Regions from separate parts of the Homo sapiens genome. Here region 1 is linked to region 2. A link means that fine-mapping ties the variant in region 2 to the expression of a gene that starts in the linked region. Tissue or cell type: tibial artery. Region 2 holds a variant in brackets; the other region holds the start of a gene. All regions are shown on one strand. Distances are between the middles of the regions.

What was found. PIP is the estimated chance that this variant, and not a neighbour inherited with it, causes the effect.
Region 1: TRIP4 starts here. The variant in region 2 is fine-mapped to the expression of TRIP4 in tibial artery (GTEx, PIP above 0.99). The same link has a PIP of 0.9 or more in tibial nerve.

The regions. Positions count from the first base shown.
Region 1 is chr15:64,386,583-64,389,202 of GRCh38, forward strand. It overlaps TRIP4 (thyroid hormone receptor interactor 4), which reads left to right and starts at 1,254. Exons shown (of 13, transcript NM_016213.5): 1 at 1,254-1,382. The coding sequence starts at 1,282. It also overlaps a transcript of PCLAF not described here. RefSeq lists enhancers at 969-1,469, 1,051-1,540, 1,470-1,970.
Region 2 is chr15:64,463,565-64,466,064 of GRCh38, forward strand. The region is part of intron 1 of ZNF609 (zinc finger protein 609); the gene reads left to right. Among named protein-coding and RNA genes, the nearest start is that of ZNF609, 4.2 kb to the left of the region's middle. RefSeq lists an enhancer at 1,264-1,313. The variant C/CA (reference allele first, on the strand shown) is at 1,123.

The DNA of each region.
Region 1 (2,620 bases), 77 kb before region 2:
AAAGTGCTGGCATTACAGGCATGAGCCACCACGCCCAGTGTGTGTGTGTGTGTGTGTGTGTGTGTTTGTGTGTGTGTCTCCGTGTGCGCTCGGGTGATCCTCCCGCCTCGGCCTCCCAAAGCGCTGGGATTACAGGCATGAGACACTGCGCCCGGCCAATACACTCATGATTTTAATTATAATATTTATGCCAATGAAAACACTAGCAAAAAGGTAAAACAGCTGCCAATTTAATGTGACCACTTAGTCTAAACAGGCTAGTAGAAATGAAGAACTTTTAACCTGCAAATGCAACAAAAAGCCAGAAATGAATGGGAAGACATTATGATCTCCAGAAAAGTTTGGCTAAATTTTCCCCAGCCCATTGTCTTAGCGGGGTAGGGAATTGCAGACAGCCCTTAAATACTGTCATTTTTGGTTGAGAACTCATGTGGAAAGTCCTCAAAGCCAAATTCCAACTCCTGTTTTACTGTTTTTTACCCTCGAGCTTGCTGAGTTGTCTTGGCTCTCCTGGAAAATACATGGCTCAAAAAATAAAATAGAAGTTTTAGCGGTGTGAATCTAGTAGTCGACTACAGGGGGTATTAAAAATAAACACTCCATCCCGGTTAACACGTGAAACCGCGTCGCTACTAAAAATACAAAAAAAATTAGCCGGGCGTGGTGGCGGGTGCCTGTAGTCCCAGCTACTTGGGAGGCTGAGGCAGGAGAATGGCATGAACCCGGGAGGCGGAGCTTGCAGTGAGCCGAGATCATGCCACTGCACTCAAGCCTGGGCGACAGTGCGAGACTCCGTCTCAAAATAAATAAATAAATTAATTAATTAATTAAAAAATTAAAACCACCACCAGAGCAAAAACTTACAGCGCTTACAATACCTTCCACGTGCTGTTTTATTTTACATAAAACCATGACGATTAAAAAGCTGGCCTCTCAGCTTTCCGGGTATTGGTTTGTTTTCCCCCTAAACTGTCGTTTTTATAGGCACTTGCACTGTCTTCTTAGCAGAATTGCCAATGGCCTTCCTCGAGTCCTACGTTTAGCGATTGGCAAGAATCATGCACTGACAGAGCTCGACTCCGGAGGGCACAAGGAAGTAGACAACAAAGCAGGAAGAAGCAGGAGGCGCACAGATGGGCGGGATCTGCACTGGAGGCGGTGCGACCTTGCGGGGCGGTGCAAGCTGGCGGAACCCGCGTGAGAGAGGTTGGTGTTGCGAAGGGAACTAGTCCGGTGCAGGACGTGGGGCTTTTGCAGCTCAGCTGGTTCCGGCTGGGGAAGATGGCGGTGGCTGGGGCGGTGTCCGGGGAGCCGCTGGTGCACTGGTGCACCCAGCAGTTGCGGAAGACTTTCGGCCTGGATGTCAGCGAGGAGATCATTCAGTGAGAACAGTTCGGGTCCAAGCGGGGAAGGAGCTCTGGGATGTGCACTGCCTGAGCGAACCGGGAAGCGGGGAGGACTGAAAAGTTAAGAGAGAAATGTGATAAAGGGGCTGCAGTCTGTAGTCTGTAGGCGTCGAATTTTGGCCTCCACCTTTGTAGTTTAGTTTCTGGAATAGGGTGTCCGGCTCCACAGTCTGCCGGTCGGGCTTTTTTCCTGGGAAGACGCCCAATCTGTAATAATTAGAAATGCAAGGCTGTCCCAGGAGCCAGTTTCCTTTCTAGAGAGAAGGGGCAGGTCAAACTGTATTTCCTAACTTTGAACCCCTTACTCTTTTATTTATTTATTATTATTGTTGTTATTATTGAGACGGAGTCTCTGTCGCCCAGGCTGGCGTGCGGTGGCGCGATCTTGGCTCACTGCAACCTCCGCCTTCCGGGTTCAGGTGATTCACCTGCCTGAGCCTCCCAAGTAGCTGGGATTACAGGCACGCACCACCACACCCGGCTAATTTTTAAAAATTTTTAGTAGAGTCAGTGTTTCACCATGTTGGCCAGGCTAGTCTCCAGCTCCTGATCTCAAGTGATCCGCCCGCCTCGACCTCCCAAAGTGCTGGGATTACAGGCATGAGCCACCGCACCCAGATATACTCTGAACATTTTAGTCGGCCCAATCTGAGTTGTGTCAGTAGAGCCAACAGGGTCAGCTGTGTCAATAGGACCTAGAATTTAAGTGGAAGCAGCGTGGTAGAGTACAAATAGCTTCTGACTCTGGAGTCTCAGGTTCTATATTCTGTTGTCGTTTACCTGTTTTAGAACCCAGGACAACTTAATTTTTCTCTCTGTACCCTGGTTTCTTCATTTATAAGATTAATCATTAGTAGAGCTTATCATGCTTTATGACTCCTATGAAATGGAGATGGTGTACATGACTTAATATCTACTTTCAACTGATTGAAGAACATTTGTTGCGCTGCTGTTACACGCCAGGTGCTGGGGTAACAAAGACAAGACAGTTGGGTTCCCCTTCGTTGATGAGTGCTGAGGTTGGGGAAATGAAGGGGCTTGTTGGAGCACAAAATAAAGGATTCTCATTAAGATTTGAAAAACTCGGAAGGTTTATTGGAAAGGATAACTTTCACCCGAGAACTAAGGAATAGACAGAGGTGGCGGTCCAAAGTGTTCAGGCAGGGGAGAAAACTACAAAAATGGGACTTGATCGAAGAACTGAAAGTGTTCCT
Region 2 (2,500 bases):
TGAATAAGAACTTTAGCCTTTGGTTTTGGTAAAGGTCTTTCTGAGGCAATTAGTCTGTCTATGGTGCCTCCCTTATCCTTTTATTTCAGTGAGTTTCTTTAAATGATGGCCTGCCACTGAGGTGTTGGGCCTTTGATAGGAGGGAACAGGTTGTTCTGACCTTTATATATTTTTTGATAACAGAACTGTCTTCAGGCCTTACTGGAGGTGTTGTCTGTCTTTAGACTATTTCCAACTCTGTGTCCTAGGAATATTTGAGTGAAGCCTCAGCTAAACTGAGTCCAAAGCTTTTTGCTCTTGGGCTCTTGGCATTTATTTCTGAATGCTGTCAGGTGACAGTGAAGGCAGAAGCCTCAGATTAAATTTGTCCTGATTAGATTTAGTGGCTTCAGAGTTGGGCCCTTGCCACAAGGAATCTCATGTGAGTCTTCTGATTGTGACCATCATTCAAAGAGTGCTTTGGATTCCCCCCCAACTACCCGTCCCAGCTTCTTGGTAGAAAAAAATTTCCTTGTGATAGAAGTCTAGAAAGTTGGACAGATTAGTGCTTATTTTGTGAGGATATGGAGGCATAATTTTGGCTCCTGGTAGCAATTATGTTGCAATTAGCATATAGCAACTAAATGACTGGAACACGATAATTTGTTGAGGGGTTTACTGATTGCTCTGTCAAGTGGAAGTGCCACTCCTTATTTATTTTATTTATTTGACTCAGAACACTATTGCCTGAGCTTAGCCATGGAGGCTAAGTATAGCAATGATATGTGTTCTCCAGAAGTTCCCACTCTGCTTCCTCTTTGTAGTTACTTCTTTTCCAGGTACCTTAGTACTTGTACTGCCCTTTTCTCCTACTCTGAAGGTAGCTAAGCAATTGTTATTTCCCTCATGGAAAACTGGTCATGGATGGGAATACTGCCAGGCAGATGGGATTAGCCTGAGATGAGGCAGCCTTATATTGTGTGGGAAGTTTTCTTTTCAGTCTCTTAATTCTCTCTTCTACTTGATTTTTCAAAATCAGTTTCCTTTAAAGAAAACAAACAAAAACCCCACAAAATGCAAAATATCGTAATGTATTAAATATGCCTTCATGATACCTCTGTTATAAAAGTTGTCTGTGACAGA[C/CA]AAAATGAAGATAGGTGATGTTGATTGGCAGGTTCTGGGTCCACTAAGTGTCAGTGAAGGACTCTTTTCGCTAGGGAACAGGTAATTCACCAAAGCACCTGCCTAGCTGGGCATGTGGAATTGGCAGCAGCTGTGTAGCTGAAGAGGGATTACTGAGCAGGTGGTTGAAGAATCACATGCCACAGTGACAAGAAAATACTTGGTCTTCCGTGGGTTAGATTCAGTTTGTATGTGTGAAATTGCACTTTGTTTCACATTTCTTAATGCTTGTTGATTTGTTAGTAAGATGGTAATAGAATAGAGAAAGAGATTCTTCTGTAACTGTGGTTTTTTAGATCACTCAGTAGCATGCCCTAGACATGGCCCTACACGGCTCTATTGTATTTATGGGAGTTCTGGCTTTATGCTTTGTGCATGGGAGGGAAATAGTGGTAATTCAGTGTTTCTAGTACTTGTTTATTAAAGGGAAATGGGAAGGAGAAAATTTCTTGCTTTCAGTATGGTGAAAAAGATTTAGCCTACTGGGTGGATACCTAATAGGTTTTATGCAAATGATGTAATTGACTTTTTGTGGAAGTCTACCTGACATGCCTTACTCAAGTGATTTTGCATGTGTTTTTATATTATGTTTTTATATTATGAATATATTTCCCCACATGAAGTTTGCATCTCTTCGGTTGTTTATTTGTTTGTTTGTTTGTTTTTCTTTTTTGAGACGGAGTTTCGCTCCTGTGGCCCAGGCTGGAGTGTAATGGTGCGATCTCGGCTCACTGCAACCTCTGCCTCCCAGGTTCAAGCAATTGCTTGCGTCAGCCTCCTGAATGGCTGGGTCTACAGGCGCCCACCACCATGCCCAGCTAATTTTAGTATTTTTAGTAGAGATGGGGTTTCATTATGTTGGCCAGGCTGCTGTAGAGCTCCTGACCTCAGGTGATCCACCCACCTCGGCCTCCCAAAGTGCTGGGATTACAGGTGTGAGCCATCATGCCCTGCCAGTTGTTTTTTTCAATTTTTAGTTTCTCCCAGCACCTTTGTAACTCTTTTCCCTGACATTGACATTAACATCACTTGTTAGAACCAAGTCATCACCAGAAGAAATGATGTTAAGGAACATCACCACTAAATATTTATCTTAAAAACGGATATAGGCCGGGCGCAGTGGCTCATGCCTGTAATCCCAGCACTTTGGGAGGCTGAGGCGGGCAGATCACCTGAGGTCAGGAGTTTGAGACCAGCCTGGCTGACATGGTGAAACTCCATCTCTACTAATAATACAAAAATTAGCCAGGCTTGGTGGTGCACTCCTGTAATTCCAGCTACTCGGGAGGCTGAGGCAGGAGAATCGCTTGAACCCGGGAGGTGGAGGTTGCAGTGAGCT